Linked DNA regions of Homo sapiens. The protein of the gene in region 1 purifies or fractionates together with the protein of each later gene. This does not show direct contact. Each region holds a gene or a part of one and is shown in the gene's direction. Other genes may lie near its edges.

What was found. The genes of interacting proteins can lie anywhere in the genome.
Region 2: the proteins of RPAIN (region 1) and UBR7 purify together in Homo sapiens (affinity purification with mass spectrometry; 2 studies listed by BioGRID and IntAct, with this or other methods). This does not show direct contact.

What each region holds. Positions count from the first base shown.
Region 1 is NC_000017.11:5,414,985-5,423,863, forward strand, and holds the start of RPAIN (RPA-interacting protein), read left to right. Parts: upstream 1-5,197; 5' UTR 5,198-5,226; coding exon 5,227-5,307; intron 5,308-6,311; coding exon 6,312-6,482; intron 6,483-7,784; coding exon 7,785-7,845; intron 7,846-8,879. Other genes in the region: nuclear pore complex protein Nup88, read right to left, coding at 1,529-1,698, 4,370-4,666. UniProt on the Homo sapiens protein: Mediates the import of RPA complex into the nucleus, possibly via some interaction with importin beta.
Region 2 is NC_000014.9:93,224,256-93,229,715, forward strand, and holds the end of UBR7 (putative E3 ubiquitin-protein ligase UBR7), read left to right. Parts: intron 1-2,687; coding exon 2,688-2,780; 3' UTR 2,781-4,960; downstream 4,961-5,460. UniProt on the Homo sapiens protein: E3 ubiquitin-protein ligase which is a component of the N-end rule pathway. Recognizes and binds to proteins bearing specific N-terminal residues that are destabilizing according to the N-end rule, leading to their ubiquitination and subsequent degradation.

The sequences.
Region 1 (8,879 bases):
ATTTATTTTAATAATTTAAATTATTTATTTAAATTTTATTTGTTTATTTATTTGAGATGAAGTCTCACTCTGTGGCCCAAGCTGGAGTGCAGTGGCGTGATCTTTGCTCACTGCAACCTCCGCCTCCTGGATTTAATCAATACTTGTGCCTTAACCTCCTGAGTAGCTGGGACTACAGGCGTGTGCCACCACACCCCACTTATTTTTTGTATTTTAGTAGAAATGAGGTTTCACCATGTTGCCCAGGGTGGTCTCAAGCTCCTGAGCTCAGGTGATCCACCTGCCTCGGCCTCCCAAAGTGCTGGGATTACAGGTGTGAGCCATCGTGCCTGGCTCCAAATTATAGCATATTTCATACGTATATATACATTTTAGGATGGTTTGACTTAGGATTGATACATATTTATACAGTACAAGTGTTTTCAGATATAGTATCTCATTTGATCTTTTTACTAACCCTGTAAGGAAATTACAAGGGCAGATATTATCAATCCTATTTTTAAAATGAGGAAACAGATTTAGAAGGTAAACAGTTTAAGGGGACTCAACTTATAAGTTGCGGAGCTAAAAGCAGTTTCTACCTTATACAGATGATCCCCAACTTTACAATGGGTTTACCAGTACATAAGCCAACATAAACTGAGGAGCTCCTTACGACTTATGATGGGGTTACCCATCATAATGTTGAAAAATCCTACGTTGAACCATCCTAAATCGGGGATCCTCTGCTGTGTTGTCAGCAATAAATCCATTTTCAACTTACACTGGGTTTATCGGGACATAACCCAATCGTAAGTTGAAAAGCATCTGTACTCTTTTCAGTAGATCTTTCAGATTCACTTTTCTGGATTTGTTGAAAAAGAAATTATATAAAAATAGGCCAGGTGCGGTGGCTCACACCTATAACCCCGGCACTTTGGGAGGCTAAGGTGGGTGGATCACTTGAGGTCAGGAGTTCAAGACCAGCTTGGTCAACATGGTGAAACCCCGTCTCTACTAAAAATACAAAAATTAGCTGGGCATGGTAGCGCTTGCCTGTAATCCCAGTTACTCGGGAGGCTGAGGCAGAAGAATCGCTTGAATCCAGGAGGCGGAGCTTGCAGTGAGCCGAGATTGTGCCACTGCACTCCAGCCTGGGTGACAGAGCAAGACTCCATCTCAAAAAAAAAAAAAAAAAAAAAAGTATATATATATATACACACATACACACACACACACACACATAAAATACTTACACTTCTGGCAAACTTCTGGCTGACAGATAACTGGTTTTACAAAATCTTACTTCTACCTAATCGAAAGAATGGCCTAGCCTCAAATGAGACAGCAACGTGGTACTTCAGGCAGAATAAAGTACAATCAATTACACATATACTATGAACATTGATAACACAGAAGCCAGTCTGCAGACCACGAGGAGTGTTTTAATGTTTTAAGAGTAGTATACTAAACATGCTTAAGAACCACTAGTCTTGAACAATTTTCTGTATATATAATAAATTATACAGATAAATAGTATACAACTTACCTACAATTCACTGTTGATTTTCCACCTTCAAATTCAGAATTCTTCCCCCATCTTTTAGGTAATTCTAATACCATAAGTCCTTTTATTCCTATAAGTGCTACATGATGTTGTGTTGGGCTTAACAAGACTTGATAGATTTCAAACAGGGGTGGATTTATGCAAAGCAATCTCTGAAAATTAGAGCAAACCAGTCAACATAGTTAATTTTAATTTAAATATAGGTGGCAGTTACTTGAAATCACAGTAATACTTAGTTTACTACAATTATAGGATAATAAAACTCTGGATAAGTACTCACACTTGTACCATTAACTCACAAATTTTTTTTTTTTTTTTTGAGACAGAGTCTTGCTGTCACCCAGGCTGGAGTGCAGTGGCAGCCCACTGCAGACTTTACTATGGGGGTTCAAGTGTCCTCCCCACCTCAGCTTCCAGAGGAGCTGGGACTACAGGTGTGCACCATCACTCCCAGCTAATTAAAAAGGTTTTTTTTGTAGAGATGGGGGTTTCGTCATGTTGCCCAGGCTGGTCTGAACACCTGTTCCCGTGCTCACAAGATCCACCTGCCTCCACCTTGGCCTCCTAAAGTGCTGATTATAGGCTACAGCTACCACACCCAGCTTACTCATGCTTGCTTTTAACATCCAAAGTTACAACTCATGATAAGCTGCTTTCTTCCCCATCTCTAAGGTTTTGAGATTTTGGAGGAGTGAAGGTTATTGAGATAGTCACCAATATTTACTGAAAGCTTATAAATTCTGGGCACTCCAGCATTTCTGTATGCTGGACATACAAAAATAAGTAAATAGCCAGGCGTGGTGGCACATGCCTGTAGTCCCAGCTACTTCCAGGCGCTGAGGTGGGAGGATCACTCGACCCCTGACAGTAGAGGCTCCAATGAGCCGTGATCACACCACTGCACTCCAGCCTGGGCAACAGAGAAAGACCCCATTTCAAAAATAAAAAATAAAATACGTTTTTAAAAAATGACAAGGGCAGACCCAGCCCCTGCCTTGGAGCTTACAGTCTAGAAAAGAAGACAGAGGCAGAGTGCCATGGCTCACGGCTGAAATGCCAGCACTTTGGGAGGCCAAGACGGGTGGATCACCTGAGGCCAGGAGTTCCAGATCAGCCTGGTTAACATGGTGAAACCCCGTCTCCACTAAAAATACAAAAAGTAGCCGGGTACGGTGGAGTGGGCCTGTAATCCCAACTACTCAAGAGGCTGAGGCAGGAGAATCGCTTGAATCCATGAGGTGGAGGTTGCAGTTAGCTGAGATTGCACCACTGCACTCCAGCCTGGGCAACAGAGCGAGATCCTGCCTCAAAACAAAACAAAACAAAAACAGCCGGGCGCAGTGGCTCACGCCTGTAATCCCAACACTTTGGGAGGCCAAAGCCAGCAGATCACGAGGTCAGGAGTTCAAGACCAGCCTGGCCAACATGGCGAAACCCCGTCTCTACTAAAAACACAAAAATTAGTCGGGCGTGGTGGCAGATACCTGTAATCCCAGCTACTCGCGGGGGGGGCTGAGGCAGAAGAATCGCTTGAAACTGGAAGGTGGAGGTTGCGGTGAGCCGAGATGGCGCCATTGCACTCCAGCCTGGGCAACAAGAGCGAAACTCCATCTCAAAAAAAAAAAAAAGACACAAAATAATTATAAATAATTAAGTTATGATTATGTCAAATGCTACACAGCAGTATAGAATGTTATTAGAATACTGCGTGCTGCACATTTGGTAATTATTATTATTTTTTGAGACACAGTCTTGCTCTGTTGCCCAGGCTGTAGTGCAGGGGCGTGATCTCAGCTCACTGCAACCTCCTCCTCCCAGGTTCAAGCGATTCTCCTGCCTCAGGCACCTGAGTAGCTGGGATTACAAGGGCGCGCCACTACACCTGGCTAATTTTTGTATTTTTAGTAGAGACGGGGTTTCACCATGTTGGCCAGGCTGGTCTCGAATTCCTGACTTCAGGTGATCCACCTGCCTCTGCCTCCCAGTGTTGGGACTGCAGGCGTGAGCCACCGCGCCCGGCCTTCATAATTCTTTTTAACTGAAATTGGGTAAATAAGTAGACTGTAGACTCCTGCCCTATTTTCAAAACTGCAGAAGCATTGCTAGCGTCTTATTAAAATTAAATCACTTCTCGGTAACAAGAATTGGACCGGGCACACAACAGATGTCATACCTTAGAATGAGTACCAAGCTCTTTTTCATCTTTAAGAGAATCTGTGTATTACAAATAAACATTTCCATAAACCAATATTTGACCACGGCAAGTGTGTAATACTTTCTGGATCACACCCATTTTCACATGCTGTCGGCTAATCAAAAACAAAAATCCCCATTTTGGGTATGGCTTTATTTTCTAAAGCGGGCGTTACGGGGGTAAGAATTAACAGAGACTTCCTCCTCCATGTCAAGCATGAAGCGTGGTGCTTTGAAACCTGCAACCTGACTTGCTGTGCACAACGCAAGAGAAAGTTACGATCTAACCTATTATAAGCGTCACATCAGGAAACAGGTTTCTCTCGACGAAACTAAAAATAGCAACTCCGCCCACTCGTTCTCAACCCCTTTAGCCCGCTTTGTTTTTCTCCAGAGCACTCATCCGTCACTAGTATTTTTATTGAATATTCAATGACCCTTTCCTTCCTCCCAGGCCTCCAGGCCGTAAGCATCGAGAGAGCCTGAGTCCCCGCGACCGCGTATGGCAGCGTCGGAGTCAATCCGCTGGAACGCCTGCCACAAGATGAAAAACAGCCAAGAGGAGCAAGGAACAAAAAAGACTGGTTCCGATCCCGGTGAGGGTCACTTCCAAGATCGGCCTGGCATTACCTGGTACTGGGACAGGGCGGGCTCTTCGCCGCCGCCGCTGGGGCCCCGAAGGCGAACGACTAAGAAGGAGCTGTCTTCTCCGTCCCACAGGAAAAGCTCTCCGCCGAGGCCAAAGACCACGTTTCTCGTCAGCAACTGCGGCGGCGGCGACGAAGGCAACGACGAAGAAGCTGGTTTCTCAGCTTCGGTTGGACTCTGGTTTTTCAGTCCCTCCCGGAGCCGCAAGAACACGACGTGGTTAGGAAGCCAGGTCTGCCACAGCTCGCCGTCGCCCACCGGTCCCTCGGCGGCCGCCATCTTGGCCCAACTGCTCCCCTCACTCCAGTTGCTCAGCCCGCCGCTGAGCACAGCCAATCCGCGGCCGTCCACTCACTGTTTCGGCCAATCACCGAGCAGACGGCCCGGAAGCTCGAGAGGCTCGTGCCAGGTCGGGGGGCGAAGGCGAGGCCAGCCCACCAAGCAGGGGCGTCACCAAGGGAAAGCCAATCACCATTATTTCTGAAGCCCAAGGGGGCGGGACGAGAAGTCAACATAATGGTGGTGCTGCTGGAAATCTAGCACCTGGGGAGAGCCTGAGACTTGTGTATCTAATTGCCTATTGGACACCTCCATCTGGGTAAACCCAGGCATCCAGAACTTTCCCTCAAGACTTACCTCCCTCAGTGCAGGTCGGGCTGGCCTCACGCATTTCGCTTGGATGCCTAAATCTGTCTCCACGTGGGGCCGGTCGATAAAACAACACTTCCCAGAATACGCTGCGATCCATTCGCGGTCTGCACCCGGAAAGTACACCTCCCAGGGGTCTGTGCGCGCCTCCAGGGAACGGGTCTTGTGGCTTTGTCTCCCGCGAAGAGGAGATGGCGGAGTCGTTGAGGTCTCCGCGCCGCTCCCTGTACAAACTGGTGGGCTCGCCGCCTTGGAAAGAGGCTTTCCGGCAGGTGGGTATGGGGTTTGTGCAGTGGTCTACCCTAGATCGTCCCGGTGACCGCCGTCTTCCCTGCCTTCGCCTTAGCCCTGCTCCGTGGAGCAGGTGCCGCAGCGCGCCTGGTCTGGTCAAACCCAGGCCTGCTGACTGTAGAGTGTGGGATTAGCCCGGGTCGGTCAAGTCCTAGAAAGCCTTGTTTTTGGATTCGATTTTGTTTTGAATTTAAATTGTGGTCAGGACATCACCGTTTGCACCTCTGCAATAACACTACCTACTGTTGCTGCGGAGGTGGCCACCGAGAGAGGCACTTTGTCTACGTTCGTCTTGTGAGATAGAGATGATTTCTATTCTAGAGAGTAGTAAAATGAGGCTTAGAAGAGGGCTCCACCTCAGTTCTGGCCTCTTCTGAACACAGTGTGGTTATTAGTAAGTAATGTCCAAGAAAGTAACCCGACGCAAGAAAGATAGCAGATACAGCAGAGTTTCTCAGCCTTGACAATGGACATTTTGAGGGAGATATTTATATGTTGTGGAGGGTTGTTTAAGCCACGTCTCGGGCCTCCACCCACTAGATGCTAATAGTCCTATAACTAGAATTGTGACAACCAGAAATGTCTCCAAGCATTGCCAAATGTTCCTTGGGGGACAAAACCTCCCTGAGTTCAGAAACGCTGCTGTGCAGGAAGGCCGTTACCCAGCCATATCTAGAGTAGCAAGAATTTGGAAGGAATATAAATGTTCTGTAATAGGACATTGGATGCTGAGATATTATGCACACAACCATTAAGGAAACTGGCAAGCTAGAATAAAAAATATGGTTCTTTGTAAATACGTGTACAAAGCATTGTAATTTTATGTATCTCTACAGAGGAATATGCAAAAGTAACACTAGTTAGTATTATCATTGAAATTTTGTGTCTATAAACTTTCTTTAATGTTTTCTCAACTAATGTAAGAGTGTTTTTTAAAAATAGAAATGCTTTTTTTTTCCCCCCCAATCTTGCTCTTTTTTCCCAGAGATGCCTGGAGAGAATGAGAAACAGCCGGGACAGGCTCCTAAACAGGTACCGCCAGGCTGGAAGCAGTGGGCCAGGGAATTCTCAGAACAGCTTTCTAGTTCAAGAGGTGATGGAAGAAGAGTGGAATGCTTTGCAGTCAGTGGAGAATTGTCCAGAAGACTTGGCTCAGGTCAGGCTGGGCTATGTGTTTTCAGGGAGGGGGACTGCACCACCAAGAACGGCTCGTGTCCTCTTTTATTTGTTTACTTGAGTCCTCTAAACCCACCATTCCCCTAACCCCATTTAGAATTCAACAGCCTTTAACCCAGGCTTTTCTACACTTAATGTTAGACTTGTCTAGATGAAATGGTCTGAAATACCAGACCGTAGACCTGCTCATCACTGCAACATCATCATTTATGAAACTAAAAAGAAAGAAATTTCATTTCTTGCCTCCACCCTTGGAAATTATGATTCAGTAGGCATAGGCTAGGAATCTCTTTCTCTCCCTCTCTCTCGCTCTTTTTTTTTTTCTGTCTTGCTCTGTCGCCCAGGCTGGAGTGCAGTGGCAAGATCTCGGCTCACTGCAACCTCCACCTCCTGGGTTCAAACGATTCTCCTGTCTCAGCCTCCCAAGTAGCTGGGATTACAGATGTGTGCCACCATGCCCGGCTAATTTTGTTTCTGTTTTAGCAGGGATGGGGTTTCACCATGTTGGCCAGGCTGGTCTTGAACGCCTGACCTCTAGTGATCTGCCCACGTCAGGAATCTCTTTCTAAAAAGGTCTCCAGAAACTTTCCGATTCTAATCTCAGCCAACGTTGGCAGCCATGTGTGGAAGGGAAAACCATTTATAGTGTATCAGGAAGAACACTGGATTCGAAGTCAGGAGTTCCAGAATTCAAATCCTGGTTTGGCTATTGACTGTTAACTTCAGTTTGCCTCTTTGAGGTTTAGTTTTCACATTTATAAAATGAGAAGATAATGTTTTCAGCATTGTAAGGACTGTGTAAGAAAATGTGGGCAACTGTTTGAAACCATCAACACCCTGTGTAATAATGATGCATTATTCAGTGGCTTTTGTGTGTCCTGCAGTACACCAATGTTTGCCTTATATCACCACAACTAGTACTCACAGTAACCCTCTTAGATAGATTTTATTCCCACTTTACAGAGGCCAAAACTGAGATTTGCAGAGATTAGGAACTTTTCATGTGGTTACGTAGCCTTGGAAGAATATGTACCTAACTGCTACCCTATATCGTCTCTCCAAAATTGGGTACCATTATTTTGTCACTGGATAGTTGGATCATTTGTTGATGGCTTGTCAGCATGACAGCATTACCCCACTGTCAGCATATTCTGCAGGAGGACTGGACTGATTTTGTCCAATAAATCTGGGTTCTTCAAGCCAGCCTCCAAGTATGAATCACTGTGGGGCTTGGTTGGTGATTAATACTTCAAACTTCTGATGCCGCTCCTTTCTCTTCCAGCTGGAGGAGCTGATAGACATGGCTGTGCTGGAGGAAATTCAACAGGAGCTGATCAACCAAGGTAACCCCTAGTGGTAGTCCTTCCTTACCTGTATTTAGCTACTGGAATACTGTGACCTTTCCTCCAATCAGGATTAGTTTATAAGTCCCCTTTGTCTACCTCCATCAGTCAAGTGTCCAAAAGACTCCTTTTGTACTCTGACATCTTGGCTGTCTAGCTTCTCAATAATAAGGGTCTCCAGGGTGCTAGACCTTGTGCTAAGAACTTCTCATTTAATGATGCTGTTTTCTCCATGTGACTGCCCTGTAAGATAGTAGTATTAGAACAGAAGGTGGTTGGTGTTCTCGTGCAGGTCATACAGCTAGTAAGTGGAGGAGATGGGAAGCAAAATCAGTTGTATGAATCCAGTTCCCATGTTTCTTCTACCATCCTGCCTCTCTATTAATGGGTTAATAGTTCACTGAGGGTGGTGGCTTATGCCTGTAATCCCAGCATTTTGAGAGGCTGAGGCAGGAGTATTGCTTGAGGCCAGTTCAAGACCAGCATGGGCAACATAACAAGATCCTGTCTCTACAGAAGTAAAAAAAAAAAAAAAAAAATTATCTGGGTGTGGTAGCAAATACTTGTAGCCTCCCTCAGCCAGAAGGCTTAGGCAGGAGGATCACTTGAACCCAAGAGTTTAAGGTTACAGTGAGCTATAATTTTACCACCTCACTCCAGCCTGGCTGACAGAGGGAGACCCTGTCACTTTAAAAAATAAAATAAAAAAAAGTAAACCTGCCATTTTACAGGATACAGTGATAGTGCATGGTCTGATCCCTTGCCCTATTCATTTTAAGTGCCACATTCTCTATTAACTCCCCAGGGCCTGTGAGCATCCACTCCTTGAGGGAGGTGTCCATAGCATGGTGTAGAGAGCATAATTTTGTACCTTATATAGTTAAGTCATTTATTCCATGTAGCCCTGATTTGATTAGGCCTTGTTTGGTTTTTGTTTTTGTTTTTTTTGAGACAGGGTCTCTGCCCAGGCTGGAATGCAGTGGCGTGATCACGGCCCACTGCAGCCTTGACCTCCTGGGCTTAAGCGATCTTCC
Region 2 (5,460 bases), on another chromosome or scaffold:
TGCTGCCTTTCTGCAAAATGAATTGTAAAGTTAAAAGAGCCTTCTTCTAAGTGGTTTTCTCAGTTTTTAGAGACTTCTTCACTATCACTGAGAACAATTCCTACTTCCTTACAGTTCTTTTTTTTTTTTTTTTTTTTTTTTGAGATGGAGTCTTGCTCTGTCGCCTAGGTTGGAGGGCAGTGGCGTGATCTCGGCTCACTGCAACCTGTGCCTCCCAGGTTCATGTCATTCTCCTGCCTCAGCCTCCCAAGTAGCTGGACTACAGGCACCCGCCACCACGCCCGGCTAATGTTTTGTATTTTTAGTAGAGACGGGGTTTCACCGTGTTAGCCAGGATGGTCTCGATTTCCTGACCTTGTGATCCGCCCACCTTGGCCTCCCAAAGTGCTGGGATTACAGGCATGAGCCACCTCGCCCGGCCTTCCCTACAGTTCTTAAAACTTAATGTAGTTATTCTTGTTTCTGTTGCAGAGACTATCCTCTGGTTAATACAGACTCAAGCTTCTTTGGTGCTAGAACTAAGAATGTTCATGGGTGTAATGGGGCACTCTGCCTCAGTGTGGTAACCTCTGAACTGTCAATGGACATTTGAGGTGTTTCAAATAGTGTGCAGGCATGCCCTCTTGATGCTGGTGCTGTTGCACCTCCACTCTTTTGTGGTCGGTTTTCTTTATTTTATCACAAACATATACTTAAAATTACATAAAAGAAAAAAGTTAGGCATGTTCTTTTTCATGCACATTGGAGACTTTTACTCAAGGTCTTCACAGGTATCTTCAACATCCGGGTCCTTGTTATCACTAGCGCCACTCTTTAGGAGTCTTTAGGAGAGAATTTTTTATCTGACCAGATAATTTAAAAGGTCAGAAAAATGTGGTATTTTTGTTGTTTGTTCCATGACATTACTAACCAGATCTTCACAGAAAAAGAAACAAAACCTCAGGTTGCCATAAAGCTTATCTGCTTTGGTTGTATTTGTCCATAGGGATAATGTTAATAAGTTCTAGCTGTTCTTAGATGGTGGACTGCCTTTTATTTAATGTTTGTATCTAACAAAACAAAAACAAAAACCAAAAAAAAAACCACTTAGACTGGGTGCAGTGTCTCATGCCTGGAATCCCAGCACTTTGGGAGGCTAAGGTGGGAGGATTGCTTGAGCTCAGGAGTTCAAGACTAGCCTGGGCAAGATGATGAGACCCCGCCTCTACAAAAAAAAAAAAAAAAAAAATTAGGCTGGCATGGTGACGTGTGCCTGTGGTCCCAGCTACTTGGGAGGCTGAGATCGGAGGATCGCTTGAGCCCAGGAATTTGAGGCTCCAATGAGCTATCATCACACCTCTGTACTCCAGCCTGGGTGACAGAGCGAGACCCTGTCTCTAAAAAGCAATAATAATTAATAAACTTAGAAACTACACATTTTCTGAAATAAATTAAAAAACTGATTTGTTATTGAACCCAAGTATTTATTCACTAGCGTTTCTACTCTGCACGTTAGCTGTGACCATTTGAGGATATCCAGAAACCAAAAGCTGCACAGTCTCATTTGTGTGTTGTTAGGTCTCCTCCTACAGTATCCTTGCTAGAGATATTTCCTTTTACTTACGGGCTTTCTGTGGCTAATGTTTGTAATCCAGGGTAGGGACAGATCCTTCATTTTGCAACTTGCAAGTATCCTATTTATTAGCATTTTGTTAAGTGTAAATTCCCGTGCCATTTAGCCAAGTACATTAGAATTTTGAGCTGCAGTCATTTCAGGATGTGTTCAGCCTCTGCATCCTGAATCTGTTAGGGGTTTGGATTCCTCACTGGTTGAGCAGCAGTATTACTGTTGGTGCTTATGAAACTGGTGTATCAGCTACTGGTCTGAGAAAATTATTCCAAGTTAGCATTATTCCAAGTTGCTCTTTTGAGTATGGTAGCCACACTTACTAGGGAATGAGAGGGAAGTTTTCACTTTATACCCCTCTTTCTTACTTTCTCTTTATCTCTTTCCCTTTTTGCTCGAATTCATTCACGTGCTCTATTTTTCTTTCTCTTTCCTTCACTTTCCTTGTCTCACTGTCCTTCTTTCTTAACAATAAGCATGTGTTACCTCAGTAAAAAATAAACATGCTGGGTGTCATGGCTCACACCTGTAATCCCAGCATTCTGGGAGGAAGCGGGAGGATCACTTGAGCTCAGAAGTTTGAGACCAGCATGGATAATATAGTGAGACCTCGTATCTACACAAAATTTAAAAATTAGCCAGGCGTAGGCTGGGCACGGTGGCTCACGCCTGTAATCCCAGCACTTTGGGAGGCCGAGGCAGGCGGATCATGAGGTCAGGAGATCGAGACCATCCTGGCTAACACGGTGAAACCCCGTCTCTACTAAAAATACAAAAAAAAATTAGCCGGGCTTGGTGGCGGGCGCCTGTAGTCCCAGCTACTCGGGAGGCTGAGGCAGGAGAATGGTGTTAACCCGGGAGGCAGAGCTTGCAGTGAGCCGAGATCGTGCCACTGCACTCCAGCCTGGGTGACAGAGCGACACTCCATCTCAAAAAAAAAAAAAAAAAAAAATAGAAAATGGAGATGTTATCATTAACATAATTCTTAACAGTATCATTTGACTTGTTTGTGAATGCTATGACCTCGGATTGCGATTCTGTTACTTAGTTCTCTTTCATAATCTTTGCTTTTCAAAAACAGGTTGTTAAGAGAGAGGACATTCAGCAGTTCTTTGAAGAGTTTCAGTCAAAAAAGAGAAGAAGAGTGGATGGGATGCAGTATTACTGCAGCTAGAGTGGAGTATGAAGCTTTCTCATTCAAGCCAATGAAAATGCGCTTCCCATTCTTGGAATAAAAGAGGTGTGGTTCACATTTGGCCCCCTTTCCGTCCTCCTCTGTTTGGAGAGGCCTCGCGCTCCCTTCATTCTCTTTAGCTGCAGTAGCCACCGTGTGGATGCTGACTTCACAGCCAGCGTCCTCTGTGACTCAGCTGATGCAGCTCATTCCACAGACTTCTCCAGTGTACTCCTACTCCAGTGCACCCAGGGTTATTTGCATAGTTTTTAAGTTTGATTTTGTTTTGAGAAAGCAAATTGGTGTCTTGTTTAATGATCTGTTATTTCACTCCCAGATGTGTGTGTTTTGCCACAGAGCTGTTGCCTTCCAGAACCTCCTCCGCAGGCATCACGGAAGGCTCTCTTCCCGTCACCTAGAACCTCTACAGGTCCCCTCGCCCCTATGATCGTGGTGCCTTGGGTCAAAGCTTCCTCAAGCCTGGTCTGCTCCTTCTTTCACGTCCCTGTTTTCTGAGGTTTGGTCATAGCTTAGAAAGGATCTTGGGGCTTGTTTTCTCTAGGCCCAACCTCCAGAGTAGCCAGGACTGATGGTTTTCTGGTCTGGATGTCTGTCACAGGCGGAGAGATTAACAGATGACAGGGTTGAGGAAGCAAGCCTTTGTTATGAATTTTACTAATACAGTTCAAGTGAAATTTTCGTTCATGATTCTATTGGCACTAGAATTAGAATTTCAGTACTGTAGTGCTCACAGGGCTTCCTGGAGAACATTTGCCCGTATACTAGTCCCTTCTCTGCTGCCTAGAAAACAGACCGGGTCTCACCCCTGTGAAATCTTGGTGGTTTACGAAGTCCTCTGGATTTCTTGATATTATCAGGGATATTCATAAGCATATATCAAAAATGGACCTATTTTGATATTCTGTTATGAAAATGTTATTAGAACCCCAATAAATTATTATTTTTCCCCCTTGAATCTGCTAAAGAAAACAGATCCTGACTTAGCTTACTTGAAATAAGCAGGGCAGGGAGCCCTGTTTTGGAAGAGACAGACTGTGGAAGAGATTACAAACAAGGCCCGAGGCTGCACGAATGATGAGTTTTGTGTATATAATGTTAATGTCCACCGCCACTTCCCTAACGACTATGAGATCTTTTTTTTGAAGATCCTCATGGAAGGTTGTACAGAGCCCCACATTTGAGGGGAAGTCCTTTCAGTTGATATGAGATCTCTTTAACACCCCTCAGTCTATGTAGGAAATGCCTTGTGATACATAGAGAACCCTCAGCTTCTCTCTGCCTCTGGAGGACCAAGGTCTTTCCTGACAGTCGGAGACACACCTTGATGTATGTTAATAAAAGCATTTCAGGCTGTGGGGCCACCATGTATATTAATACTCCTTATGTGTCCAGCATCTGTGTATTCATTCGAGTGCCCAATCCCTGGATGAGATGAACTAGGCCTTATAAAAAGTCAAAGCCTCAAAGAAATGGCACAACCATGTTCTTCGGCACTCAGGCTCCTAATTGCAGATCCTCACGAAGGGTGGTATGTGGAGCTGGAAGGTCTTGTGGCCACAGGACATGCTGGTGAGCCCTGAGCTGGCCTTGTGCAGAGGGCTCCGTTCAAAGGCTCGGGGTGTCTTTGAGGTTGTTTATCAAGCTGGGGAACTCTTCCAAGTCTGACAATGTTTCGAACCCTTTTTGCAAGGTTGCACTATTAGTATACCATCATGTCCGGAAAACTTTTAATCTTCTCAAATATCTGATGTAACTACCAGAAAGTCCCTTACTTCCTATGACCAATCAGGACCAAGTCTTGGAGGTGATGTGTTACATTACGTGCAGCACAATAGTACCGATCAGTTAACTCAGCGCTGAAGGGCTTGTTTTATGAAAGGTACTATTCCTTCTTTCACATTAACTGGAAACCTCTTTTTTTACCTGTTGTTCACAACTAGTTTTCTTATTGACTGTATTGGACTGTCTCTTCTTGTAGAGACTGATTTTGGCCAACATATTAATGCATGTTTTATGCAAAACACAAATATGATATTAGTTGCTTTTAAGGAGTTCTGGCATTGTATGTGCATTTTTGTAGAAATTGTTACTGGACTTATAATTACATACTTAACTCTGATCAGGTTTCTGTAAAATTTAAATAAAACCAATACAAAATAGTTGCTTTTCAGATTGTTTTTAGTATATTTAAGTCTACACAGCCTCCCTCTGCAGGTTTTAAGAAAATGCAGGCAGGGCGCGGTGGCTCACGCCTGTAATCCCAGCACTTTGAGAGGCCGAGGCAGGCAGATCACGAGGTCAGGAGATCGAGACCATCCTGGCTAACATGGTGAAACCCCATCTCTAATAAAAATACAAAGAATTAGCTGGGTGTGGTGGCGGGCGACTGTAGTCCCAGCTACTCGGGAGGCTGAGGCAGGAGAATGGCGTGAACCCGGGAGGCAGAGCTTGCAGTGAGCCGAGATCACGCCACTGCCCTCCAGCCTGGGCGACAGAGCGAGACTGTCTCAAAAAAAAAAAAAAAAGAAAAAATGCATAGAGCCGGGCATGGAGGTTCACGCCTGTAGTCCCAGCTACTTGGGAGGCTGATGCAGGAGGATTGCTTGAGCCCAGGAGTTGGAGGCTATAGAGTGCCGTGGTTGCACCTGTGAATAGCCAG